2 separate regions of the Homo sapiens genome follow, and region 2 is linked to region 1. Evidence: fine-mapped expression QTL. A gene starts in region 1. The other region holds a variant in brackets. All regions are shown on one strand. Distances are between the middles of the regions.

Region 1 (13,658 bases):
GAGGCTGAAAGGAAATGACATGATAGAATGGGCACAGGGCAGCTAATATAAGCGAAGGGGACATAGGGGAAGCAGAGGCCTGTTAGGATGAGGCAATGTGCTAACCAGCTGCGTTTTAAGGAGCTAGTTCCGCCACCAATTTGAGTTCTAAAGTAGGTCTATACTTTATGTGAACCCAAAGATACAAACAGGAAAGGGAGCCTACCACTCATTCAAAGGGTTCCAGCTCTAAGATGAAGCCTATGGCTACCTTCTGAACATGAACAGACCAGACCAACAGTCATTTTGAGGGTAGAGAACCACTGTCCTACTCACATTCCCAAAACAGGGACAGGGTGCCAGTCCATGTATGAATCCCACATGGTCCCTACATAGTTTTTAATTTTTAATTTTTTTTTTTTTTAATTTTTTTGAGATAGAGTCTTGCTCTTGTCGCCCAGGCTGGAGTGCAGTGGTGGGATCTCAGCTCACTGCAACCTCCACCTCCCAGGTTCAAGTGATTCTCCTGTCTTAGCCTCCCAAGTAGCTGGGATTACAGACGCCTGCCACCATGCCCGGCTAATTTTTGTATTTATAGTAGAGTCGGGGTTTCACCATGTTGGCCAGCCTGGTCTCAAACTCCTGACCTCAGGTGAGCCACCGTGCTTCGCCCTTACACAGTTTTTGAATGAACTACTGGAAAACTGAAGGCTCGCTAATGACACATTCACTTCATCTCTAGCATGTAGTTACTGAGCAGTCATTTGAGCTCTAAATCCCACGCACTGGGGAATTAAGTAGGAAAAAATGATAACTAAAATTGTTAATATCTTTCTAAAAGCTACTTACTAGGGATTATACATTCTACTTTTTTAATTATCAGGGTTCCTAGTGCAACACCATGCTGATGGCAAATATTAAGTAAATGGTAAATGCTTATGGAATGAATAAGGAGCATTACTAGACCAGTTCAGTGTACCACAATGAACTGGAAAAGCAGCAAGCAGGACTCGACAGACATGAAAACAAAAGAATCTGGTTAACTCAGCCCCCAGTGAGATGCTACTCACTTGCCACAGTTCTGCCCCCTCAAACACTTTCTGCCTGAGTATTGGATGTCAGTAGTTGTACCAACACTGGCAACTATCATCCAGAAATGGTAAGAGAATGAATATGAAGTCATTTCAGAAAGTTAAAATACACAAGGGCTGAGTTTCTTCTGATGAGGTCATACTCACAGGAATGTTGCCAGCAGTAGCCCCAGCTCCAAATCTGGCACCTGCATCATACCCTCCTTCCACCAGCACTGTGGAGCCAGGTGGATAGATGGGACCGACTGGATAATAAGCCATGGGGATTGTGGAACCTAAAGGCCCAACAGCCACAGACTGGGCCATGGGAAGATACAGAGAGGCTCCAGGAAATGCGGCTGACATGGTGGGGACTGTGGCAGCCCCTGGGTGCACAAAGCTCGGACGATAGAGCTAGAAGAGGCAGAAGAGAAGGCAAAATGTTACTTTATGACATTCCTATTTGAGATCTCTTTAATGAGCTAATTCTTAATTCTCCTTATGCAGGTTATACTTTTTGTAAGATTATACAAGTTGCCTTTCCACTGGCCTTCAATATTCTCCTGGATCACTTTCTGCTATAGCTAATGTTGGGCTCACAGAACGCAAATTCATCTTCTGCACCTTAGCCTGTGCCAAATAACACAAAATCATCAAATAATGCACTTTCAACTCCGACAAAAATTGCCAAATTATATAGTGTTTTAGATTATTCATGTTAGCATTTGTGAAGAGTAAATATGTGAAGTCAGATTTAGCTAAGGACTAAAGGACCACCCTAAGAGTATTCCCAGCTAGTTCAAATCTGGCAAACTGGAAGCACCTCTGAGTAGGCAGGTGGAGCATCGGTATAGGGTGGAGCCTGAGGAAGATGCAAGGTCTGAGGGTATACTGGATTCCCAGGAGGCTGCACAGGGTAGGTTGGCTGTGTTGGATATTGACCTGAAAGACAAGAAAAAAATGAAGGTTGCCTACTACACAGAGCTACCAAAATGAGGCAGGTCATATCGGGTAGCTAACTTAGTGGGAGCAAGCAGAAGGGGATTTGCAAATAGTCTGCCCCAGAGGGCCTGATTCCTGGAACTAAGAAAATATGCATTGTCTTTGCACCCTTAAAATGGAAGGTGCTGGATTCTAACGAGACAAGAAAGGCACTGCTCACTGCTCCTACTAACATACCGAAGTAAGGGGTTAAGTCTACCTGGGCCCAAGTTCCCTCCGGAATGCAGGACAGGTCTGGGGTTCTGGCCTGCTGCTGTTCTGGCTTATCAAGGGTGCCTCTGCTCTAGGTAGTCTCCACAGCCTGTCTACAACCAGCCCAGACTTCGTGGGTAACAGCAGTTCTGATTTTCCTTACAGATTACTATTCAAGGTCGACTTCCAAACAAAGGGTGTGAATGATGGAAGTGAACCGTGAGACTGGGAAAAGGGTGCAGGGCTGAGGGGTGAGGAGGAATATCCTCACTGGAAAAGCGGGGGATCAGGTTTGGTTTTTTGTTTGTTCTGAGACGGAGTCTCGCTCTTTTGCCCAGGCTGGAGTGCAGTGGCGCGATCTCGGCTCACTGCAACCTCCGTCTCCTGGGTTCAAGCAATTCTCCTACCCCAGCCTCCCGAGTAGCTGGGATTACAGGCGCCCGCCACCACGCCCAGCTGATTTTTGTATTTTTTAATAGAGACGGGGTTTCACCACGTTGGCCAGGCTGGTCTCGAACTCTTGACCTCAGGTGATCCGCCCGCCTCGACCTCCCAAACTGCTGGGATTACAGGCGTGAGCAACCTCGCTCGGCCTTTTTTTTTTTTTTTTTTCTATTCCTTTTTTACCCCCTCAACCTATTCCTGCGTTATGGGAATCATGTTCCGACAGACACACTGGTACAACCACAGAAAAGGGGAGAAGTTCTGATCCCGTCAGCGAAGGGCGAGGGGGTGCGAAGGGAAGGAAAAGAGACCTCACAGGCCCCGGCCCACGAACCAACTCCAGCAATTCAGTAGTTAAGTTCGGCCCCGCTGGGGGTTCCGGAGCGCGGCGCCCCGCCTCCGCCGGCTCTCCATTGGCCTACGCGAATGCCTGCGCTAGCGCTCTATTTGCTCCTGCGGATGCCCATCATGTCAAGCCCCCCCACCACCCGAGCCCGCAGCTCCAAACTGCGCCACAGAGTTTACGGAGGAAAGGGCCTGGAGGCAGCAAGCTGCCGTAATTTGGGTATGACGAAGGCGTCAGGCGCAGCGCCCTGGACTGCAGCCGGCCAAGGAGCATGGCGCAGCCCACCCCAAACCTGGCGTTTGGTGACCCTGGGCTCCGAATCCGCTCGCTCTGGGCCAGCAGTACTCCCCCCGACGGCCTCTGCCACCCTCGGTCCTTGCCTTTGCTGTTCATGGTGGTTGCGGGTCCGGTTTGTCTCGGCGTCGCGGACGGTTATTTTTTTCGTCCTCTTCCTGTTCGGAGCTACTTCCGTGTCACATGATGGTCCGTCCGCCTAGCGTCACCCGACGCCCGAGTGGCGCTGCCGCCGGAAACTCCGCCCCTGCTCCGGGCCTCCAGTCGGCCGCGGGAGGGTCCGCGCGGTCCCGCCCACTCGCCTTGGCCCCACCCCCTGCTCGTTTCTGTCCTCCCCCCCCCTACCGGTGTCCCTCAGCTGGAGAAAAACCAAATGCAGGTATTGTCTGGAAACAGGATCTTTTCTCTGTTGGACGCTCGGATGCAGAACGATGCAAGCATTCCCCGGAACCTTTTTCCACCTACACGCATTCACTCAAGGTCACCTCACCTTGGCAACCTTCCACGAGGGGCTTAGATTTCTGCAAATTTGTCGCACTGCCTGAAATCGGCTCCCCACACCTTAGTTTATCATGCGTCCCTCCCCACCAAGCCCAACTTAAGCTTCAGCTCTGTTAAAATTTATTTTGCCACTCCAGCTCACATGTATCCTTTCCTGAATGAGACCTGCACTGGAATCTTCGCTGCCCTGTCTTCCCCAGGACAGTCGTTGCCTTTCTCACGTACAGGAAGGGGTTATGTTTTCCGTGCTGTACGCAACACCTGGCACTGAAACTGACATAACTGCACTACCCATGGAGTGTTTGTGGCCCTTTCCTTTTTTTAGCACCTGTTGCAGGTGACCTGTATGGTACCTCTATTTTTCTCTATGTATGGCTTCTCTTTCTAACCTAATTATCCTTAAGGGCAAAGATGGCATCCTTTAGGGCAGCGATTAAGTGTTTTCTTTTCTTTTTCTTTTTTTTTTGAGACGGAGTCTTGCTCGCTTGCCCAGGCTAGAGTGCAGTGGGGCGATCTCACCACAGCCTCCACCTCCCGGGTTCAGGCAATTCTCCTGCCTCAGCTTCCTGAGTAGCTGGGCCTACAGGCGTGCGCCACCATTCCTGGCTAATTTTTGTATTTTTAGTAGAGACGGGGTTTCACTATGTTGGCCAGGCTGGTTTTCTTTCTTTCTAAAAAAAGTTTTAATTTTTTCTTTTCTTTTTTTTTTTTTTTTTTTTTTTGAGATGGAGTCTTGCTCTGTCGCCCAGGCTGGAGTGCAGTGGCATGATCTCGGTTCACTGCAACCTCCGCCTCCTGGGTTCAAGCAATTCTCCTGCCTCAGCCTCCCGAATAGCTGGGATTACAGGTGCCCGCCACCACGACCGGCAAATTTTGTATTTTTTAGTAGAGACGGGGTTTCACCATGTTGGCCAGGCTGGTCTCGAACTCCTGACCTCAGGTGATCCACCTGCCTCGGCCTCCCAAGGTTCTGGGATTACAGGCATAAGCCACTGCGCCGAGCCTTATTTTTATTTATTTATTTATTTATTTATTTATTTATTTATTTATTTATTTATTTTTGAGACAGAGGCTTGGTCTGTCGCCAGGCTGGAGTGCAGTGGCGCAATCTCAGCTCACTGCAACCTCCGCCTCCAGGGTTCTAAGCGATTCTCCTGCCTCAGCCTCCCGACTAGCTGGGATTACAGGCACGTGCTATTCATTTTTTAATACAGAGATGGGGTCTCCCTGTGTTGGCCAGGCTGGTCTTGAATTTCCAGCCTCAAGCGATCTTGCCACCTCCATTGTCCAATGATTAAAGGGTTAACTCTTAGGACCCAGGAACTCTCCTGGGCCTACCTCCTGCTCATGTAAACTGCCCTCAGATTGGTCAGGCCTACTTTACAGGTTGTTGGGTATTTTGCTTGTCACAGTGGGACCTGGGCATTGGGAAAACCAGGGCAGAGCCAAATGAGATTACTAACAAAAATGAAAGAGTTGCAGGCCAGTGCTTTCTCTGGCAGGTGGAATTAAGAAGTAAATGGTGGCTGGGTGCAACAGCTCACACCTGTAATCCCAACACTTTGGGCAGCCTAGGCAGGAGGATCGCTTGAGCCAGGAGTTCAGAACCAGCCTAGGCAGCATAGTGAGACTTCATCTCTACAAAAAAAAGTAGTAGTAATTAGCTACTTTCTTGAACAGGATCAAACTTTGGCATTTTCTTCATTCTCGTAGATTCCCCAATGAGATGAAGATGTTTATTTGGTCATTTATCAAACATTCTTTCTTACATTAATTTAACAAATATTTTTTGAGCACCTATTATGTGCCAGGCCCTGTGACAGGCACTAGGGAAATAATAATGAAGAGACAGGCATAGTCCATACTCTCATGGAATTTATGGTCTACCTAATGGGAGAGACAGAAAAGTGAACACATAATATGATTAGTGCTGACATAAAGACAGCATGGAGTGTGAGGAGAACACATAGGTGAGGCACCTACTCTATTCTGATGTAGTCAGGGAAGGTTTCCTGATGCAAGTGATGTCTGAGATGAAATCTGAAGGGTGAGAGCAGGTTAAGCAAGTGAAGAGGGTTCCTGGAAGAGGGAACTGCTTATGCAAAGGCCTAGAGGTGAGAAGGCTTATAGAGGGGGAGGGCATGAAAGAGTTCAGTGTAGCCAGAGCATACTGGTAAGGGGACTGATAAAAGATGACCCTGAAGATCCGGGTGCGGTGGCTCATGCCTGTAATCCCAGCACTTTGGGAGGCCAAGGCGGGCAAATGACTTGAGGTCAGGAGTTCGAGACCAGCCTGGCCAACATGGGGAAACCTCGTCTCTACTAAAAACACAAAAATTAGCTGGGCATGGTGGTGCGTGCCTGTAATCCCAGCTACTTGGGAGGCTGAGGCAGGAGAATTGCATGAACCTGGGAGGCGGAGGTTGCAGTGAGCCGCGATCGTGCCATTGCACTCCAGCCTGGGTGACAGAGCAAGATTCTGTCTCAAAAAAAAAAAAAAAAAAATTGACGCTGAAGAACTGTGAGCCAGACCTTGCAGGGACGCCTTAGAGCCCATGTAAGATCCCACATGAAGATACTGGATTCTATGTTAAGGGCACTAGTTAGCCACTGAAGAATGTTAAGCAGGAAAGTGATATGATCTTGTTTTTGTTTGATTGATTGATTGATTGGGACAGGGTCTTGCTCTGTCACCCAAGCTGGAGTGCAGTGGTGCAGTCACAGCTCACGGCAACGTTGAACTCCTGGTCTCAGTTCATCCTCTCACCTCAGCCTCCCGAGTAGCTGGGACAGTGGGTGCTTGCCACCATGCCTGGCTAATTTTAAATTTTTTATAGAGACAGAGTCTCACTTTGTTGCCTAGAGTAGTCTAGAACTCCTGGCCTCAAGCAATCCTCCTGCCTCGGCCTCCCAAACTTGGGATTACAGGCGTGATCCACTGCTCCTGGCTTGTGTTTTTCTTTTAGAAAAATGCTTCTGGGCCAGGCACAGTGGCTCATGCCTGCATTCCCAACAATTTGGGAGTCCAAGGCAGGAGGATTCTTTGAGCCCAAGAGTTCAAGACCAGCCTGTGCAACGTGGTGAAACCCCATCTCGGCAAGAAATTTCTAAAAAAGTATCCAGGCATAGAGGCACGCACCTGTGATCCCAGCTACTCGAGGGGTTGAGATAGGAGGACTGCTTGAGCCCGGGAGGTCGAGGCTGCAGTGAGTCGTGGTCACACCACTGTACTCTGCCAGCCTCGGTGATAGAGGCTATCTCAAAAAAATAAAGAAAAGAAAAGGAAAAATCCCTCTGGTTGCTAAAGAATATAGAATAGGTTAAAGAAAGGGCAAGAGTGGACGTATGTCTGAGATACCATTTAGAATCAAATTTAGTCATTTAGGTGTGATGATGGCAGACTGGCCTAGGGAAGAGGCAGTACAGTAGAGAGAAATGGGGGGATTCCAGAAATATCCAGGAAGCAGAAACAACTGGACTAGTTCCAGGACTAATGTCAGGACAAAATTTCTACAAAGTCAAAACTCCATATAGTCAAATGACAAATTGGAAAAATATATTTGTAATTTACATCACAAAGAGCTAATCTTCCTGCATGTAAAGAACTCTTAGACATCAGTAAGAATATGATCAACCATTAGAAAAAAATGGCAAATGACATTTACAGACAGACAGTTCACAGAAAAGGAAAAACAAATGACTCCCTAACACATGAAATGATGTTCAGCCTGGGTCGTAATCAGAAGGCAGATTAAACCCCACCGATATCATTATCAGATTGGCGAAAATCCAAACATTTGCTAACATTATTTGCAGGGCTGTGGATAAGCAGGCATTCTAATTTGTTGGTGATGGGGGTGAAAATTGGTACAAATCCTATAAGGTTAATTTGGCAATATCCATCAAACTTGCAAACATACCATTCCCACTAATGGGAGTGATTCTACAGATATATTTGCACTCACGAGAAACGTATGTATAAGGCTATTCATTGCAGCTTTTCTGTAACAGCAAAAGATTAGAAATAACCCATATTTCTATCAATAGGAAACAGAAAAAATAAATCTTGATACATCCATACAATAAAATACTATGTGGCTGCAACAGAGAATGAGAAAGTACTCCAAGGTGTTCTTTAAATAAAAAAGGGAAAGATTCAAAACCATATACTTAGTGTGATACATTTTATTTATTTTATTTTTTATTTTATTTTGAGACAGAGTTGCACTCTTGTCACGCAGGCTGGAATGCAGTGGCGTGATCTCGGTTCACTGCAACCTCTGCCTCCCAGGTTCAAGTAATTCTTGTGCCTGAGCCTCCCAAGTAGCTGGGATTACAGGTGTGCACCACCATGCCTGGCTAGTTTTTGTATTTCCAGTACAGGCGGGGTTTTGCCATGTTGGCCAGGCTGGTCTCGAACTCCTGGCCTCGAGAGATCCACCCGCCTCGCCCTCCCAAAGTGCTGGGATTACAGGCGTGAGCCACCGCACCTGGCCAATATGATACTTTTTATGTCAAAGAGCAGGGAAACCAAGAATATTCATCAGAATTTGAGTAAAGAAATTCTGGAAGGATACACAAAATACCTATAAAAGTGGTTACATAAGGGGGAGAGGGAGTGGAGGATGTGAGACAAAGGTGGAAGTGACTTTTTACTATATACTTTTTAGACGTTTAAAAATATTTGAACCTATAATCCGAGCACTTTGAGAGGCCAAGGCAGGAGGATCACTTGAGGCCAGGAGTTCGAGACCAGCCTGGGCAACATAATGACACCCCATCTCCACACACACAAAAGTAAATCAATTAGCCTGGTGTGGTGGCACATACCTATAGTCCCAACTACTTGGAAGGCTGAGGTGGGAGGATCACTTGAGTCCAAGAGTTCGAGGCTGCAGTGAAGATAATGGCACCACTGGGCTCCCGCCTGAATGACATAGCAAGATCCTGTCTCAAAAAAAAAAAAAATGAGGCTGGGCGCAGTGGCTCACGCCTGTAATCCCAGCACTTTGGGAGGCCAAGGCAGGCAGATCACCTGAGGTCAGGAGTTCGAGACCAGCCTAGCCAAAATGGCGAAACCTCGTCTCTACTAAAAATACAAAAATTAGCCAGGTGTGGTGGCACACGCCTGTAATCCCAGCTACTTGGGAGCCTGAGGCAGAAGAATCGCTTGAATCTGGAAGATGGAGGTTGCAATGAGCCGAGATCAAGCCACTGCACTACAGCCTGGATGATGCTCCAAAACAAACAAACAAAAACATTGAACCATGTGAATGCTTACCTAGTCAAAAAATTAAAACAATGTTGGCTTCCCTATTACAATGGCTAATATTAAGACTGGACAGGGTGCAGTGGCTCACACCTGTAATCCCAGCACTTTGGGAGGATCACTTGAGCTCAGGAGTTCAAGACTAGCCTGGGCAACATGGTGAGACCCCATCTCTGTTTAAATTTTAAAAAATAAAAATAAGTAAAAGAAGACTGACCACATCAAGTGTTGGAGAGGATGTGGAGGAAGTGGAATTCTCACACACTCTGGTTAAAATCTTAAATGGTGCAACCTCTGTCAGGGCAAACTGCTGGTCATAATAAGAAAGAACAAAATGGTGCAACCACTTTGGAAAACAGTTTGGCAGGGTCTTTAGAAGTTAAACATCCATACACCACATGATCTAGCCATTCCACTCCTAGGTATTTACCCAAGAGAAAAGAAAACACATGGGTACACAAGGACTTATACATGGATATTTATAACAGCTTTATTTGTCATATCCAAAAATCAGAAGCAATGAAAGTGTCTACCAACAGGTAAATGGATAAACAAATTTAATGCCATACAGTAGAAAGGAATAAAGTATGGATCCACAAAACAACATGGATAATCTATGCTCAGTAAAGGAAGCAGATTTTTAAAATAAGAATACATACTATAGAATTTTTTTTTTTTTTTTAGATATAGGGTCTTGTTATATTGCCCAGGCTGGAGTGCATAGGCGTGGTCATAGTTCATTGCAGCCTTGAACTGGGCTGAAGGAATCCTCCCACCTCAGCCTCTCAAGTAGCTGGAACTACAGGCATGTGTCACTGTGCCCGTTGGATTCCATTTATATACAATTCTAGGAATACAAACTATAGTGATAAAAAGCAGATCAATGGTTGCTGTGAAGGGAAGCAGAAGGGGAAGGAAGGAGGTTGTAAATGGAATGTAGGAAAGTTCTGGGACTGATGAATATATACTCATTGCCTTGATTGTGGTGATGGTTTCATGGGTGTGCCTTTTTTTTTTTTTTTGAGATAGAGTCTCGCTTTGTTGCCCAGGCTGGAGTACAGTGGCGCAATCTCGGCTCAATGCAACCTCCACCTCCCGGATTCAAGCGATTCTTCTGCCTGCCTCAGCCTCCTGAGTAGCTGGGATTACAGGTGCCCGACACCATGCCTGGCTAATTTTTGTATTTTTAGTAGAGGTGGGGCTTCACCATGTTGACCAGGCTGCTCTGGAACTCCTGACCTCAGGTGATCTGCCTGCCTCAGCCTCCCAAAGTGCTGGGATTACAGATGTGAGCCACCGCGCCCAGCTGGGTGTATATTTTATTTTATTTTGTTCATTTATTTATTTGAGATGGAGTCTCGCTCTGTCGCCCAGGCTAGAGTGCAGTGGTGCGATCTCAGCTTACTGCAACCTCCACCTCCTGGGTTCGTGCCATTCTCCCGCCTCCGCCTCCCGAGTAGCTGGAACTACAGGCGCCCGCCACCACGCCCGGCTAATTTTTTGTATTTTTTATTAGAGACGGGGTTTCACGGTGTTAGCCAGGATGGTCTCGATCTCCTGATCTCGTGATCTGCCCACCTCAGTCTCCCAGAGTGCTGGGATTACTGGCGTGAGCCACTGCGCCCGGCCGGCCGGGTGTATATTTTAAACATGAGCAATTTATGTCAACTAACAATACCTCAATAAGGCTGTTTTTTTAAAATAATAATGTTGGGATGAGGAAAACCCAAGCATGATGGCTAATGAATTTTTTTGTTTGTTTTTTGAGAGGGAGTCTTGCTTTGTCACCCATGCTGGAGTGCAGTGACATGATCTCTGCCCGCTGCAACCTCCACCTCCCAGGTTCAAGTGATTCTCCTGCCTTAGCCTCCCAAGTAGCTGGGACTACAGGTCCCACCACGACACTGGTTAATTTTTGTAATTTTAGTAGAGACAGGGTTTCACCATGTTGGTCAGGCTGGTCTCAACTCCTGACCTCAAGTGATCAGCCCACCTTGGTCTCCCACATTTTTGGGATTACAGGTGTGAGCCACTGTGCCCGAGCTTTAATTTTTTTGTTTTCATTTTTTTTTTTTGAGACAGGGTCTCACTCTGTCACCCAGGCTAGAATGCAGTGACACGATCATGGTTCATTGCAGCCTTGCTCTCAGAAGCTCAGGCCATCCTCCTGCCTTAGCCTCCTGAGTAGCTGGGATTACAGGCGCGTGCCACTATGCCCAGCTAATTTTTGTATTTTTTGTAGAGATGGGGTGTCGCCGTGTTGCTTAGGCTGGCCTCAAACTCCTGGGCTAAGGGATTAGCCTGCCTCAGCCTCCCAAAGTGCTGCGATTACAGGTGTGAGCCACTGTGCCCAGTCGACAGCTAATGAATCTTAATGTGCCTTGGGCAAGATGGATGCTAAAAGGAAAATTACAGCAGCACTTGGTAAGTGCCACATTGGAGATGGGTAAGCTGTGATGTGAGGACTCACAGAATGATAGTGACTCTTCCTGCTGGGCCCCCTAGTCCAGGGGTGTCCAATCTTTTGGCTTCCCTGAGCCACACTGTAAGAATTGTCTTGGGCCACACATAAAATACACTAACACTAATGGTAGTTGATGAGCTAAAAACAAAACCAAAAAAATCACCAAAAAATCTCATAATGTTTTAAGTTTACGAGTTTGTGTTGGGCCGCATTCAAAGCCATCCTGGGCCACATGTGGTCTGCAAGCCGAGGGTTGGACAAGCTTATCCTAGTCCCGGTTAATTAGGTTGACTATAGTTGTTTATGTACCTTTATTCAACACCTACTATGTGTTGTGCTCTTCACTTATGTAACCAGAAGAACAAAACAACCTATTTCCTAGCCCAAAGGAGTTGGAGCTTTGTGAAAGAATCCAATCTCTCTTAGAAGCAACTTTTTTTTTTTTTTTTTTTTTGAGATGGAGTCTCACTCTGTCACCCAGGCTGGAGTGCAGTGGTGCGATCTTGGCTCACTGCAACCTCCACCTCCTGGGTTCAAGCGATTCTCCTGCCTCAGCCTCCCGAGTAGCTGGGATTACAGGTGCGTCCCACCACACCCGGCTAATTTTTGTATTTTTAGCAGAGATGGGGTTCACCATGTTGGCCAGACTGGTCTTTAACTCCTGGCCTCAAGTGATCCGCCCACCTTGGCCTCCCAAAGTGCTGGGATTACAGATGTGAGCCACTGTACCCGGCCTCTTTGAAGCAACTTTTTCAAAGCTTTATCTAGTCTTTGTGTAACTAAGGGAACAGCTATTATAAGATATATGGCTTAGGCCCAGGCACAGTGGCTCACGCCTGTAATCCCAGCACTTTGGGAGGCTGAGGCGGGCAGATCACTTGAGGTCAGGAGTTTGAGACCAGCCTGGCCAACATGGTGAAACCCCGCCTCTACCAAAAATACAAAAAGTAGCCGGGTGTGGTGCCATGCACCTGTAATCCCAGCTATTTGGGAGGCTGAGGCATGAGAATCACTTGAACCTGGGAGGCGGAGGTTGCAGTGAGCAGAGATCATGCCATGCCAGTGCACTCCAGACTGTGCAACAGAGTGAGAATACATCTCAAAAAAAAAAAAAAAAAAGTACCCTCATTTCTTATTCCTGGCAAGCCTTGTAGGAGAGTCACTAACACTGCTCTGCATAATAAATGTAAAACAGTTAGCCAAGCATGGTGGCACAGGCCTGTAGTCCCAGCTACTAGGGTGGCTGAGGTAAGGATTGCATGAACTCAGGAGTGCAAGGCTGCAGTGAGCTATAATCGCATGACTGCACTCCAGCCTGGGTGACAAGTGAGACCCTGACTCTAAAAAAATTAAAAATTAAAAAAAGTAAAAAAAAAAAAAGGCCAAGCACAGTGGCTCTGTAATGTCAACATTTTAGGAGGCCGGGGCAGGAGGATTGCTTAAGGCCAGTAGTTCGAGACCAAAGGTTATCCAGGGTACTCAGAAGAGCAGAGCTTCATCTGTGTCTTACTCAGACTGGAGGGAATACCAGCCTCCCCGAGACAGTCCTACTTGGAGGGACTATATGCCAAAGCTCATTCACACAAGGCTGCTGTGCCACCTTCTCCCTGTTGCACCGGGCCCCACGCACATACACACATACACAGTCACTGACTCACTCTCACCCCTCTAGCCTTAAATCCAGAATCTAGACTGAATATGGACTGAATGGGTCAGATTTGGGGAAATGTGTTTCTGGGGACAGCTGAGGGACCAGAGAGAGGCAGGGCCTGGGGCTTCCCAGGAAGGAATGGAGGGTTGAAGATGTTCCTAGCGAGGGAAGCAGACCTGAGGACAGGGAGCCAGGGTAGACCTGACACTCCGTAATAAAGGTTAAACTTCTTGGCGGCTTTTCACTTAGATTATAGGGAAAGTTAAAACCAAAGTTTAGCTGGGCATGGTGGTGGGCACCTGTGGTCCCAGCTACTTGAGAGGCTGAGGCAAGAGGGTCGCTTGAGCCTAAGAGGTCAAGGCTGCAGTGAGCCGCAGTCATGCCACTGCACTCCAGCCCAGGTGACAGAGCAAGACCCTGTCTCAAAACAAAACACGGCGAAACCC
Region 2 (16,098 bases), 19 kb after region 1:
CCTGTAATCCCAGCACTTTGGGAGGCCAAGGTGGGCTGGTCACTTGAGGTCAGGAGTTCGAGACCAGCCTGGCCAACATGGTGAAACACCATCTCTACTAAAAATACAAAAGTTAGCCAGGTGTGGTGGCACGTGCCTGTAATCGTAGCTATTCGGGAGGCTGAGGCATGAGAATCCCTTCAATCCAGGAGGTGGAGGTTGCAGTGAGCTGAGATCGCACCACTGCACTCCAGCGTGGGTGACAAAGTGAGACTCCATCTCAAAAAAGAAAAAAAAGTAATATTGGCTGGGCACAGTGCCTCAAGCCTGCAATCCCAGCACTTAGGCAGGCTGAGGCTGGCAGATCAGTTGAGCCCAGGAGTTCAAGACCAGCCTGGGCAAAATATAGCAAAACCTCATCTCTACGAAAAATACAAAAATTAGCCAGGCATGGTGGCACATACCTGTAGTCCCAGCTACTTGGGAGGCTGAGGCAGGAGGATCACTTGAGCCCAGAAGGTTGAGGCTGCAGTGAAACAAGATCACACTACTACATCCAGACTGGGTGAAGGAGTGAGACCCTATCTCAAACAAAATAAAATAATAATAATTAGAACAATGTGGTATGTATTATACAGGAAGCCTTCTTGGAGGAGGTAAATCTTGAGTTTGCAAAGCTAGAAGGGTCCCAATTAGAAAGATTAGAGGTATATATGGCCAAGCCTACCTGATTTGGTGTCTGCCTCCCTTTCCAACCTCATTTTGTACAATTCTCCCCCACCTCTTGCGGTGTCCTAGCCTACAAGAGACCAAATGTTTGTGTCCCCCTCAAAATTCATATATTGAAATTCTGGCCCCCAATGTGATGGTATTATGTGGGCCCTTTGGGAGGTGATTAGGTCATGAGGGTAGAGCTTTCATGAATGGGATCAGAGCCCTTATAAAAGGAACCCCAGAGAGCTTCCTAGCCTGCTTCTGCCATGTGAAGATGGCTGTCTATGAACTAGGAAGCAGGCCCTCAGAAGAAATCAAATCAGCCAGCATCTTGATATTGAACTTTCCAGCTTCTAGAACTGTGAGAAATAAATTTATGTTGTTTATAAGCCATCCAGTATATAATTTTTTTTTTTTGAGACGGAGTCTCACTCTGTCACACAGGCTGGAGTGCAATGGCACGGTCTCAGCTCACTGCAACTCCAGGTTCAAGCGATTCTCTTGCCTCAGCCTCCCGAGTAGCTAGGACTACAGGCACATGCCACCACACCAGGCTAATTTTTGTATTTTTAGTAAAGACGGGGCTGGGCGCGGTGGCTCATGCCTGTAATCCCAGCACTTTGGGAGGCCAAGGTGGGAGGATCACGAGGTCAGGAGATCAAGACCATCCTGGCTAACACAGTGAAACCCCATCTCTGCTAAAAAAAAAAAAAAAAAAAAAAAGAAAAATACAAAAAAATTAGCCAGGCGTGGTGGTGGGCACCTGTAGTCCCAGCTGCCCGGGAGGCTGAGGCAGGAGAATGGCATGAATCTGGAAGGCAGAGCTTGCAGTGAGCCGAGATCACGCCACTGCACTCCAGCCTGGGTGACAGAGCGAGACTCCGTCTCAACAAACAAACAAAAAAGTAAAGACGGGGTTTCACTATGTTGGCCGTGCTGGTCTCAAACTCCTGACCTCGGGATCCACCTGACTCGGCCTCCCAAAGTGCTGGGATTACACCCGTGAGCCACCGTGTCCGGCCAAATAAAACTCTTCAACAGGATTCTCAGCCCAGCACGTTTTCGTTTTCTCCTTCACTCACATTTCCCCAACTTTCCGAGCCTTCATTTATTCAATAAGTAATTATTATCTACTGTGTGCCAGATAACTGGGCTTGGTGCCAAATGTCCAGTCAAAAACAAAATGGACTGTTGCCTTGGAATTTACTGCCTACTCGGTAAACATATTAAATAGAAAATAAACATACAAATACATCAGCACACATGGTGATTAAGAAAACGGGAAGGTGATACGAGACAAAATAACACTGAAGTGCAGGGAAAATGTCTCTGAGGAAGGAAGCCATATATAAGGCAAGGCCTGAAAGATGGGCTAAGGAGGAGGCAGAAGAAACAGCATAGGCAGACACAATGAAGGCAGGAAAGAGCTCGAAGTTTAAGAACCTGAAAGTGGATCAGTATCGATGGGTCTTAGTCCGTTTGGGCTGTTATAACAAAATACTATAGGTCGGGTGCAGTGGCTCACGCCTGTAATCCCAGCACTTTGGGAGGCCGAAGCAGGTGGATCACCTGAGGTCAGGAGTTCAAAACCAGCCTGGCCAACATGGTGAAGACTCATCTCTACTAAAAATACAAAAATTAGCCGGGCATCGTGGTGCATGCCCGTAATCCTAGCTACTCGAGAGGCTGAGACAGGAGAATAGCTTGAACCCGGGAAGTGGAGGTTGCAGTGAGCCAAGGTCTCATCACTGCACTCCAGCCTGGGTGACAGAGCAAGACTCTGTCTCAAAAAAAAGTAAAATTTTAAAATAAAAATAATAAAATATTAGGCCAGGCGTGGCGGCTCACACCTGTAATCCTAGCAATTTGGGAGGTGGAGGCAGGCGGATCACCTGATGTCAGAAGTTTGACATCAGCCTGGCCAACATGGTGAAACCCTGTCTCTACTAAAAATACAAAAATTAGCTGGGCACGGTGGCACATGCCTGCAATCCCAGCTACTTGGGAGGCTGAGGCAGGAGAATCGCTTGAACCCAGGAGGCAGAGGTTGCAGTGAGTGGAGATCGTGCCACTGCACTCCATCCTGGGCTAAAGAGTGAGACTCTGTCTCAACAACAACAACAACAAAAGCCAGGTGCGGTCTTTGGCATGCCCAGGCAAAAAAAGAAAAAAAAATTTTTTAAGTAATATACTTTGTTTTTTGTTTTTGAGACGGAGTCTCACTCTGTCACTGAGGCTGGAGTGCAGTGGCACCGTGTCGGCTCACTGTAACCTCCGTCTCCTGGGTTCAAGCAATTCTCCTGCCTCAGCCTCCCGAGTAGCTGGGATTACAGGAGCCCACCACCACGCCCGGCTAGTTTTTATATTTTTAGTAGAGACGGGGTTTCACCATGTTGGCCAGGCTGCTCTCGAACTCCTGACCTCAGGCGATCCACCCGCCTCAGCCTCCCAAAGTGCTGGGATTATAGGCATGAGCCACAGCGCCCAGCCAAAAAGTAATAAACTTTCATTGCAAGAAGACTACCAATACCACATACTGGTGAGGATGTAAAACAATTAGAACTCTCTCATGCATTGCTGATAAAGATATAAATTGGTTCAAACACTATAGAAAACTATTTAGCAGTATGGACAAAAGCTAAATAAAATAGAATAGCTATTCTACTCCTCAGTATTTACCTGGAAGAAATAAGTGCATATGTTCACCAAAATACTTGTACAAGAATGCTCATAGCAGTTTTATTCCTAAGAGGCCCAAACAACAAGCAAATGCCCATCAATAATGGAATGGATAAATTGTAGTATAATTATGCAATGGAATACTACACAGCAATAAAAAATACTTCTACATTCAACAACATGGATGAATCTCAAAAACATATATTGAGGCCGGGTGTGGTGGCCGACACCTGTAATCCCAGCACTTTGGGAGGCCGAGGAGGGCGGATGACTTGAGGTCAGGAGTTCGAGACCAGCCTGGCCAACATGGTGAAACCCTGTGTCTACCAAAAGTATAAAAAATTAGCTGGGAGCGTGGTGGCTCATGCCTGTAATCCCAGCACTTTAGGAGGCTGAGGTGGGCGGATCATGAGGTCAGGAGTTCAAGACCAGCCTGACCAACATGGTGAAACCCCATCTCTACTAAAAATACAAAAATTAGCCGGGCATGGTGGCGTGTGCTTGTAATCCCAGCTACTCAGGAGGCTGAGGCAGGAGAATCACTCGAACCTAGGAGGTGGAGGTTGCAGTGAGCTGAGATCACACCATTGCACTCCAGCCTGGGCGACAGAGCGAGACTCCATCTCGAAAAAAAAAAGAAAAAAAAAATTAGCTGGGCGTGATGGCACGCACCTGCAGTCCCAGCTACTTGGGAGGCTGAGGCAGGAGAACCACTTGAACCCGAGAGGCGGAGGTTGCAGTGAGCCGAGATCACACCACTGCACTCCAGCCTGGGCGACAGAGCAAGACTCCGTCTCAAAAAAAAAAATTTTGTTGAGTGACAGAAGCCAAACACAAAAGATTGCATATTGTCTGATTCCATTTATGAGAAGTTCAAGAATCAGCTCAAGTAATCAATCTATGGTGACAGAAATCAGAATAATGGTTACTTTGGGAATTTATGGCCGGTGAAGGTACATAAGGGAATCCTCAGGTCTTGGAAAGGCTCTATATCTTGTTTTGGGTGGGGATTACATGGATATATATATGTGTGTGAGTATATACATGTATATATAGACATGTATATATGTATACACGTATCTATACACGTGTATATATGTATACACACACACGTACATATGTATACACACACATACACGTACATATGTACACACACATATACACGTACATATGTATACACACATATACACGTACATATGTATACACACATATACACGTACATATGTATACACACATACACGTACATATGTATACACACACATACACGTACATATGTATACACACACATACATACACGTACATATGTATACACACATACATACACGTACATATGTATACACACATACATACACGTACATATGTATATACATGTAAAAATTTATCAAGGTATACACATACTGTGTACATGTTATGCCCCAATAAACACAGAAACAAAAAGTAATATATGCTCATCAAATATTTAAGCAATGCAGAAGTGTATACAACATAAAGAAAACCGTGATTAACATTTTTATGTATGTCTCCCTGAACTCCTCTGATCACATCCATATTTCTTTCTTCAAACTGTCGCTGATATCCATGCTATCCAAAGCCTTTGATCTATGTGTAGCACCAAACCAAGTGACATAAATGAAAAGTTTCAACCTTCATGTGACAAAGTTCAGCAGCAATACTGAGCCCCTCCTTCACATAAAGAGTAGTGGGAAATACAAACATGAGTAAGTCACAACCAGTGCTCTCAAAGAATTCACAGTCCAGGGAGAGAAACTACAGGGACTACCGGCCAAACAAAAACCCCAAGAACTGTAATATCAAGCCACGCAGTAGAGTTTCACAGGGCCATTAAAACGAGTTCAAACTATTGTACAAGGAATGACACCTTACAGTTGTATAGAGCTTGCAGCTTTCAGTTTTTTCACATACAGGCTCACAAACTTAACCCTATGAAGTAGTCATTATAAATGTCATTATAAATATTATCCTTGTTTTATAAGTAATGAAGAAGTTAAATTACTTGCCTGGACGGCTAGTGGAAGAGTTGGGACTAAAACCTAAGTATTCTGACTCCTAATACATTGGTTACTCATAAATCCGCCGCCAGCAGTACCTGCTCACTTCCAGATGGAAACAGCAAGCTGATAACAGCCTAGTCCACTGGCCAGGTTAACGACGAGGCCGGGCCATTCAATGCCCTTCCACCACGAGGCCTTACGGAGCAGTCCCGGGGAGGACTGAGGCCTCCAACTGCATTCTCACACTGCCTCTAACCCATCTACCTCTAGCTATCCTCAGACCACCAAATATCGGGAGAGGGTGGGAGGGGGAACAGCCTAGGATGACAGCAGGTGGCCTCAGTATTGGGATCCACATTCACTGGATTTACAGAGCCTCCTTCCTTCCCAGTTCTTCTCTCCATTCCCACGCTTCCACTTTGGTCTTCCAACTTTTTCCTCTTTCAGTTGTCCACCACTTCTCCAATCTGCTTTCCCTCAGCCACCCACATCCACCCCTTTTCTGGTCCCCTCTCTACCTTAAGAAGCTGCTAGAGGTTTTTCACCATTCCACTGAACTTTGTCTTTCTGTTCACATTTCCTTGTCTACTTGGACAAGAAGGCCGGAAATCTGCTTTTAGACAACACAGCCCACGGCCGCCACCGGGTGAGAGACCTGGGACCCTTCGCTGCTTTGGCGCTGGGGCACAGCTGTTCAGAGGTTCTCCACGTTGGCTGAGCGATGTCTGAGTTCCCCCGCCTTTCTAGGGAGGGAGGGATAGACATAAACTTGACTTTCAACATTGAGGACAGTTGACTACCTAGAGGAAAGGCGGTGGCCGGGAGTCACCGCCCCAACCCTCAGCTGAAGGCCATGTGGCATGGAGGGTCCGGACTCCAGCTCCTACTCTGGCACCTTCCGAAATGAAACCACCTCCGCGGCACCTCGGAGGGGCTGAGTAACCAGACCCACTGACCGTCCATCCCTGTCCCGGGAGAGAGCCTCCGGGACCTCCCGCTCGGCCAGGGCCAGAGGGTCCCCTCCCCACCCCCACCCCTCGCTCCTGGCTCCCGTGCTCCCCTCCCTTCCCTGACCGCCCTCCCAGCCCGCCGCCCCCGGCGGCTGGCGCGGGCGGTGCAGCATGCGGCAAAGCTCTTTGCATAAATTATGCTCATGACGCAGCAGCTAAAAAAATCCAAGTAGCAGAAGGAGGGAAAAAAGGGGGGGAGGGAAAAGGGGGGGGTCGTGGAAGGGGGAACGAAGAAAAATATATACCTGACCGCCCCCCCACCCGGCTTCCCCTTCCCGCTTCCCGGCCGTCCCCTCTCCGCCCGGCTTAGCCTGCGGAGCCCCCTTCGGCTCTGCCCAGCCCAGGCTGGGGGCCTGGGGGCGGCGGCGGGTCCCGACCAGCTCCCGGGCCGAGCCGAGCCCAGCCAAGCCGCACTGGCTTCTTTGTCTGCGGGCGGCGGCCGCCGTGGCCCCGGCCCCGGCCCCGGCCCCCTGGCCCGGGCTGTGAGATGAATCTCTAATCGGTGGCCGCCAGACACCCGCGGCGAAGGCGGCTCGGGCTCGGGCTCCGGTAAGTAGCGGGGTCCGGGGCGGGGAGGGGTTTGCACGGAGGGGGAGGGGGCCGGGCAGGGGAGGTTTCGGGTTTGGTTAATATGCAATGCCCGTAATTAGCATAATTTATATATTTATGATAAAGAGAAAAAAAGCCGCGGGGCCGGGGCGGCGGGATGCTGGGCCGGGGCGGCGGGGAGCTGCGGGAGCGGGACAGCGCGCGGTTGCCCAGCTGGGGCTAGACACCCGGGGGCCGCGCCCTCGCCCGCCCGCGGGCCGCTCTGGACCTGGAGCGGAGGGGGCGGCCGCCAGGTGGACCCGGTGGGGAACCCCGACCTGGCCCCTCCCCGTTTCTGCCCCTGGAGCCCTTGTGGGGTGCGGACCACAGGGGACGCTCTGTACACAGAACCAGTGGCGACCAGAAGCGGATCCTTGCCTCTCTGGAGAACACGGACGCCTGGGTTCCCGGCGGTTAGGGCCAGCTGGGGCGGCCAGGGTGACCTGTCACGGTTCTCCCGAATGAACAAACTCCGGGACGACCGGTGGGACCCGGGGGTAGGGACCCAGGCGTTGCTGGAAGGGTGGGTCAGTGATGGGAGGGCCACCTTCTAGCAGAGCATGAGCACTTCATAAATATTTAATATCGATATTATTATTAATAAATAGTCATAATAATGGGCCCGATGCAGGCTCCCTGGGCAGGCTCACCTGGCAAGGCCAAGGGAGCTCCCAGCATACCCTCTAACCTCCACTTTCGCGGCAGAATACCCCACTCAGCCCGACTGGAAGCCTAAAACCTTCACAGAATAGCCTCTGCGGCTGGGCAGGGGGAAATCAGAAGAGTTCGGGAAGCATTCCTGGGCCAAAGAAAAGAGGCTCTTTGCAGAGATTTTTAACCTCATCTGCCCTTCCCAAATTCCTTGTTCCAAAAGTAGAGGGCTGGTCTTCAATTGTTCATATACATGTGTCCCATGCCCCTTATTTAGCAATCTAAGGCAGCCACCATTGACTGGCAGAGGCCTTCTGAGGAATAATTCCATATATTCCATTTTCATTCAAGTCCTGGTCCTCAAAGTGATACTTCTGTGACCTGGTACTCCGCTTATCTGCTGTAGAACTTCATTTCTTCATTAGTTCAACAAAAATACCCACTCAGTGCCATGCTCTGAACAATTCAGACAAAACTTCTATCATGGAGTTTTTATTCTGGGGGTGGACAAGTAGATGCTAAACATTAAAACTAACAAGGTAATACCATAGAGTGATTGTGTGTCAGTGTGTGTGTATGTAGCCATTTATTCTGTTTTGTTCCTGGAAGTACTAGCTGGCAGTTAAGAAAAGTGACTCAGAAAAAATTTGCTCCTGTAAGGTTTTTCTGCATTTTGAAGGAACTTGGGATAAGCTCATATTCTTGTCCCCAAGATTTACTCACCATAAAATTATCAGAGTAATCTTTTACATTTTCTTTTTTTTGAGACAGAGTCTAGCTGATTTTTTTGTATCTTAGTAGAGATGGGGTTTCACCGTGTTGCCCAGGCTGGTCTCGAACTCCTTAGCTCAGGCAATCCAACCGTCTTGGCCTCCCAAAGTGCTGGGATTACAGGCGTGAGCCACCGTGCCTGGCCATCTTTTACATTTTTAAAATGCTTTATAATTTAAAACATTTTTATATGCATGCTTTACTTCAGTTCAAAATAATAGCAATGATAATAACAAACATATATATAGTGTTTGCTTCATGCTAGGCCCTGTTTTAAGTGCCTTCCATAAATATTATCAATTTAATCCTCACAATAACCCATGAGGTGGTTACTATAATTTGGTTCCATTTTGGATAAGGAAACGGAGGCTTATAGGGATTACCTCTAGTAGAAGCAGTACTCAAGCTGGGTCTTCTGCCTTTAAACCTGCCTTTGACCCCTCATGTCAAAATGAGGGTTCATGAGGCAGAAGAGAGAGTGGGATGCAGGAGAAACTGGCCACAGGAGGAAGGCTTGGAATGAGAAATTAGACGGGCGCTTTAGGAAGGGGCCAGTGTGGTCTGGGTTCTCCAGAACCCAATACTACACCTTGGAAATCTCTCTTTTTTTTTTTTTTTTTTTTTT[G/TG]AGACAGGGTTTCACTCTGTCGCTCAGTCTGGAGTGCAGTGGCGCGATCTTGGTCTCACTGCAACCTCCACCTCCCGGGTTCAAGCAATTCTCCCACCTCGGCCTCCCAACTAGCTGGAACTATAGGCGCACACCACCATGCCTGGCTAATTTTTGTATTTTCAGTAGAGACGGGGTTTCACCATGTTGGCCAAGCTGGTCTTGAACTTCTGACCTCAAGTAATCCGCCCGCCTCGGCCTCCCAAAGTGCTAGGATTACAGACGTGAACCACCACACCCGGCCTGTACCACGTCTTTGAAATCATTTTTAAGTAGCCCCAGTACTGGAAATGGAGGCAAAACATTTGAAGTAGGGTGTGTGTTTTGAGGGAAAAGGTAGGAAATAATAAGAGGCTAAGTGATGTGGCTATGACGTGACCTCGTATCTTCAATTGTTTTCAGCCCATATTCATGAACCTAGTTATATACCAGATATTATCTTAGGCACCAGGGATATGATGATAAGCAGACATGATCCCTGCCTTCCTGGAGCTTACAGTCTACTAGGAACATACCTACTTTTCATTTTTCACATTTCTTTTTTTTTTCTTTTTTGAGACAGGTTCTCACTCTGCTGTCACCCAGGATGGGGTGCAGTGGCACAATCTTGGCTCACTGCAGCTTCACCTTCTTGGGCTCAAGCGATTCTCTGGCCTCAGCCTCCCAAGTAGCTGGGACTACAGGCCTGCGCCACCACACCCAGCTAATTTTTTATTTGTTTGTTTGGGTTTGTTATGTTTTGGTAGAGATAGGGTTGCACCATGTTGGCCAGGCTGCCCTCCAACTCCTGACCTCAAGTGATCCACCCGCCTCAGCCTCCCAAAGTGCTGGGATTACAGGTGTGAGCTACTACCCTTGACTCTACTCTCCTATTTATTTGGTCACCTCATCATTCTTTTTCCTTTCTCTGGCCTGTGTGTGCCTAGCTGTTAGCCTACCAACAGCTTGGCAAGACTGTTATCTCTGCTCATGGTTCAGGGTGTGGGGACAGGCGTCGGTGTGGAGCAGAATTGAGATCCTCTGTTTTCCAGTGTGTCCTGAGCCTTGGGGACCAGAGCAGTCCCCATCAGCCTTACCCCCATTTCCTGAGAGGAGGTTCTGTGTGGTGTCAGGAGGATGGGGTCCGGGGCAGGTCGACAGAGCCTTGAAGTTTGAATCTGCCACTGACTCTCCTGTGCCCTTGGTCAAGTCACCTGACCTCTCTCTACCTCTATGTACATATAGATAAAAATGAAGATGATTGTGGTAAGAGTCATGCTAAGCATTTCATTTACATGATCTCATATCACCATCATAACAATCCCATAGGGCTTGCCTATTTAATCACCATTTTATTTATTTATTTATTTATTTATTTTTATTTATTTATTTTTTTGACATAGAGTCTCACTGTGTCTCCCAGACAGGAGTGCAATGGCATGATCTCGGCTCACTGCAACCTCCGCCTCCCGGTTCAAGCGATTCTCCTGCCTTAGCTACCCAAGTAACTGAGATTACAGGCACCCGCCACCACACCCAGCTAAGTTTTGTATTTTTAGTAGAGATGGGGTTTCCCCATGTTGGCCAGGCTGGTCTTGAACTCCTGACCTCAGGTGATCCTCCTGCCTTGGCCTCCCAAAGTGCTGGAATTACAGGTGTGAGCCACTGCGCCTGGCCTAGTCACCATTTTAAAGATAACGAAATTAGGCCGGATGTGGTGGCTCACGCCTGTAATCCCAGAACTTTGGGAGGCCGAGGTGGGCAGATCACAAAGTCAGGAGTTCGAGACCAGCCTGGCCAATATGGGGAAACCCCGTCTCTACTAAAAATACAAAAATTAGCTGAGCAAGGTGGTGGGCGCCTGTAGTCCCAGCTACTCGGGAGGTTGAGGCAGGAGAATCGTTTGAACCTGGGAGGCAGAGGTTGCAGTTAGCCGAGATCATGCCACTGCACTCCAGCCTGGGCAACAAGAGCAAGTCCTCGTCTCAAAAAAATAAAATAAAATAAAATAAACCATAGAAATGGGCCAGGTATGGTGGCTCATGCCAGTAATACCAGCACTTTGGGAGGCTGAGGTGGGAAGATAATTTGAGCCCAGGAGTTGGAAACCAGCTTAGGCAACATGGAAAGACCCTGTCTCTGAAAAAAAATGATAATAAAACCAGAAATGGATCTGAGTTTAAAAGTCTGAATCCCATACAAGTTCCATTTTCCTACATAGGACAAGATTCTTTTACATAAAATTTCATGTCTGAAATACAGGCCTCCCTGGGAACAAGCACCACATAAAACTGCATTAGAGGCCGGGCGCGGTGGCTCACGCCTGTAATCCCAGCACTTTGGGAGGCCAAGGCGGGTGAATCATCTGAGGTCAGGAGTTCCTGACTAACCTGGGCAACATGGTGAAACCCCGTCTCTACTAAAAATACAAAAATCAGCCTGGTGCGGTGATGCGCACCTGTAGTCCCAGCTACTCAGGAGGCCGAGGCAGAAGAATTGCTTGAACCTGGGAGGCGGAGGTTGCAGTAAGCCGAGATCCCGCCGCTGCACTCCAACCTGGGTGACAGAGCGAGACTCCGCCTCGAAAAAAAAAAACAACTGCATTAGGTCATTAGGTGTTAGGTGTCCCTCTTGTAGATTCTTTACTGCTTTCTGTTCACCCACCATGAAACTTAAGCATACTGTATTGTAGTTACCTTCTTATTTCCTTGACTCCCATATTGGACTATAGCTTTCTTTTTTTTTTTTTTTTTTTTTTTTTGAGACGGAGTTTCACTCTTGTTGCCCAGGCTGGAGTGCAATGGTGCGATCTTGGCTCACCTCTGCCTCCCTGTTGTTCAAGCGATTCTCCTGCCTCAGCCTCCCGAGTAGCTGGGATTACAGGCATGTGCCACCACCCCAGGCTAATTTTGTATTTTTAGTAGAGACGGGGTTTCTCCATGTTGATCAGACTGGTCTCGAACTCCCGTCCTCAGGTGATCTACTCGCCTCAGCCTCCCAAAGTGCCGGGATTACAGGCAAGAACCACCACGCCCGGCCTGGACTATAGATTTCTTGACAAAGGTGGGAAATGTGTTTTCCCCATTGAATTCCCAGTGCCTAGCACATAGTAGCCACTGAAACATGCGTTGAAAAAACAAAGGTTTGGCTGGGCGCAGTGGCTCATGCCTGTAATCCCAGCACTTTGGGAAGCTGAGACAGGCAGATCACGAGGTCAGGAGTTCGAGACCAGCCTGGCCAACATGGTGAAACCCCGTCTCTACTAAAAATACAAAAATTAGCTGGGCATGGTGGCGCGCACCTGTAGTCCCAGCTACTCAGGAGGCTGAGGCAGGAGAATCACCTGAACCCGGGAGGCGGAGGTTGCGGTGAGCCGAGATTGTGCCACTGGACTCCAGCCTGGGTGACAGAGCCAGACTCCGTCTCAAACAAACAAACAAACAAACAAACAAAACAAAAAAAACAAAAAAAAAAACGAAAGGCAAGGCATTTCAGGATTTCTTCTAATAGGATCTCAGACTATTCTAGGGAGTTCTGATTTGTTTGGGATATCCCAGTTCTCCTCCTGGGTATCTTGGAATGTTGCACTAAGCCCAGAGCAGTTCCAGAGGAGAATGACAGGCAGAACTAGGTCCTCTAGCTCATTCTCCCCCGCTGAAAATCCTGCATGGCCCTGGACCTCTTTGGATTCTCAGGTGGTAGGCAAATGCCTTAGCACTTGCTGTTCCTTCTACCCCTGAGGCTGCTTGGGTTTTTGTTTGTATATTTATTTATTTATTAGGGACAAGGTCTTGCTCTGTCAAGGAGTGCAGGCTGGAGTGTAGTGGCGTGATCACGACTCACTGCAGCCTTGAACTCTGGGGCTCAATCAATCCTCCTACCTCAGCTTCCCAAGTGGCTGGAACCATAGGCGTGTACCACTACACCTGGCTAGTTTATTTTATTTTTTCAATTTTTTGTAGAGACAGAGTCTCCCTGCATTGCCCAGGAAGATATCAAACTCCTGAGCTCAAGCAATCCTCCCCCTTCAGCCTCCCAAAGCATTGAGATTGTAGGTGTGAGCTACTGTGCCCAGCCCTGCCTGCGTTTTTAGATGTTAGCAAGGAAAGCAAGGGATAAGTGAGCCATTTGCTAGCCAACCAGAGTGCCTTGCCAGCCCTGATCCAGGCGTTTTTCAAAGTCAACTCACTGGAGAAAGAAGGCAAAGGAGAGGGCCCTTGGTGGGCTCTGGCTCTCTCCCCAGCTTTAACCAGAGCAGCTCTGCTGTGATCTGTGTATGTATTGGGATTCTACTGCTGGGATGGGGACAGGAGCTCCTTCTCTTGAAACAGACAGCTGATTGTCTCTCCTCCCTGGCCTTCAGGCTGTGGGCACTGCACAGCATCATGGGCTTAAAGGAGGCCATCCAGATGTGCTATTTATGCAGTCATTGGGGAAATGGTCAAAAAGCAAACTGAAGAGGGCTGTCTAGTCACTGGAACCAAGCCACAGCCTGAGGCTCAAAAAAAATTTGGAAAGTTCCTGACAAGGAGATGGCAGCAGGTCCAGAGGAAAGTCTGCACAGATACCAAGCAAGGGGAACACACAGGGTACAGCTCAGAGTCAAAATGCTGAGTGTCTACTTGTCAGAGAGACGTTGATATCACATACATGTGTAATAGGAGCCATCTAAAGGTAAGACAGAGACAGACAAGGGAGTCTGAGATCTGAGACAAAGGAGGTCTTGGACTCTGCTCTGCCTGGATTTCTGGTGGGCTGAATGAAATCTGGTGGGTGGGTTGGAGTGGGCTTAGGTGTGGCTAGAGGCTATGTCTCAGGACTGACTTTGCCCTTGACTTAAAGGACCAGACACTGAGGACCCAGGTCCTCAAAGCTCGTCAAATTTTAAGGGTGAAAGGGATATCAGAATCACCCAAGCCTTATCACTACCTGAATCCTCCTAATAACACAGTCACAAAGTGGACGCTTGCCCCTGCTCAGCCACTCCCTGTGAGTGGCCATAGTTGGCAGCAAGGAGCCAGACGCCACAACAAGACTATGAGCAGACTTAACGCTCCTCTCAAGCAGATGCCTTGTTGTCCTACAAAGATTGGCTACTGCTGCCTTACGCCTAATGACCTTTGGAATTGGAAAATTCTTCTCCCCAAGAAATGTATGTATCAAGCTATAATGCACCCAGATTCACCTTGTGCAGCTTTCATTTCAATTTTGTCTCTTCCTCTTATTTTCTTTGCAAATGGCTTCTATGTGTAACGACTTTCATAGCTTATCCCAGTTCCTACCCAGAAGTGATGGTAAATTGCCAAGTTCTCTGAAAAACTCATGGAAGACTACCATGTACAAAATCTGGGGAGACAGGAGTTTAAGACTAGCCCTGGCAACATAGTGAGACCTCATATCTACCAAAAATAAAAAATAAAAAAAATTAGCTGGCCATGGGTAGTCCCAGCTACTCTGGTGGTTAAGGTGGAAGGATCACTTGAGGCTGGGAGTTTGAGGCTGCAATGAGCCATGGTCATGCCACTGCATTACAGCCTGGGCAACAGAGCAAGACCCTATCTCAAAACAAAAAAAAAATCTGAGGGGAGACATCACCTAAGAAGGAGGCTAGAGCCCCATTGAGGTAGTTAGATGCTCACCAGTTCTTTCAGCAAATTCCTCTGCCCCTCCTGCACCCCCTCATCCTACCTGAAAGGGGAAGGCTCATTTCCTCTTTTTTCAAATTGTTAGGTACCTGGAATTGCTTGCCCTCTCTTGAATCCCACTCTAGAGGGGTTAAGGAAGGAAGAGGAGGGAAAGAACCTCATGGTTCTCCTTACCTGGTTGATCAGGGAACATTCTGCCAAGCAATGAAGATGCTAAAACCCCAGGGGTGATCCAGCAATTCCATTCCTAGGTATATACCCAAAGAATTGGAAGCAGGTGTTCAAAAAAAATTATACCCAATAGTCATAATACACTATTTGCAATAGCCAAAAGGTAGAACAACCCAAATGTCCACCAACTAATGAATGGATAAACAAAATATAGTGTATCCATACAATAGAATACTATTCAGCCATGAAAAGGAATGAAGTTCTGACACATGCTACAATGTGGATGAACCTTGGAAACATGCCAAGTAAAAGAAGCTAGACACACAAAGCGACATATTCTATCATTCCATTTACATGAAATATCCAGAATAGGGAACCCCATAGAGAAAGCACATCAGTAGTTGCCAGGGCTTGGGCGGTGGCAGTGGAAGGTGAATGACTGTTAGTGGATATGGAGTTTCCTTTTGGGTTGATGAAAATGTTCTGGGACTAGACAGTGGTGATGGTGGCACAAGTGTGAACCCACCAGATTCCACTGTACGGAGCACTTTAAAGTGGCTAAAATGGTTAATTGTATGGGATGTGAATTTATCGTAGTCTGTTTGGGCTGCTATAACAAAATACCATAAACTGGGTAGCTTTTAAACAACAGAAATTTATTTCTCATAGTACTGAAGGTGGGAAGTCCAAGATCAAGGTGGTGTTGTCTGGTGAGGACCCACTTCCTCACTGACAGAGCCTTATTGCTGTGTCCTCACATAGTCGAAAGGGTGAAAGTATCTCTCTCACACTGGGGTCTCTCTGTTGCCCAGGCTGGAGTGCAGTGGCGAAATCACTGCTCACCACAGCCTCAACCTCCTGGGCTCAAGTGATCCTCCTGCCTCAATCTCCTGAGTAGCTGGGACTACAGGTATGCACCACTACGCTCAGCTACTTTTTGTACTTTTTGTAGAGACGGGGTTTCACCATGTTGTCCAGGCTAGTCTCGAACTCCTGGGCTCAAGCAGTCCACCTGCCTAAGTCCTGGGATTACAGGCATGAGCCTTGGTTCTTTTTTATATGGGCACTAATCCCATTCCTAATTACCTTCCAGAGGCCCTATCTCTTAATACTATCCACCTTGGGGATTAGCATTTCAACACATGAATTTGCGGGGAAGGACACATTCAGACCATAGCAGAAAGGAAAGGTGAATCCAGAACACCCCTCTGGGCTTTGTTTCACCATCTGTAACA

Direction of the effects. Alleles are on the strand shown, and positions count from the first base shown. SD is a standard deviation of normalised expression in the study named.
For the expression in microglia of the gene that starts at base 3,508 in region 1, TG is the high allele of the variant in region 2 and G is the other (large effect, 0.85 SD a copy in Young 2019).

The links. PIP is the estimated chance that this variant, and not a neighbour inherited with it, causes the effect.
Region 2: its variant is fine-mapped to the expression of DAZAP2 in microglia (Young 2019, PIP 0.95).

Annotation. Positions count from the first base shown.
Region 1 is chr12:51,228,676-51,242,333 of GRCh38, reverse strand. It overlaps DAZAP2 (DAZ associated protein 2), which reads right to left and starts at 3,508. Exons shown (of 4, transcript NM_014764.4): 1 at 3,414-3,508; 2 at 1,873-1,991; 3 at 1,218-1,463; 4 at 1-4. The coding sequence starts at 3,426. RefSeq lists enhancers at 1,909-2,545, 3,262-3,511, 3,435-3,729, 3,821-4,458 and a silencer at 3,602-3,711.
Region 2 is chr12:51,208,487-51,224,584 of GRCh38, reverse strand. POU6F1 (POU class 6 homeobox 1) reads left to right here and starts at 6,523. Exons shown (of 11, transcript NM_001330422.2): 1 at 6,523-6,943. RefSeq lists silencers at 4,063-4,242, 6,350-6,499, 6,700-6,859, 7,090-7,349 and an enhancer at 6,140-6,199. The variant G/TG (reference allele first, on the strand shown) is at 9,030.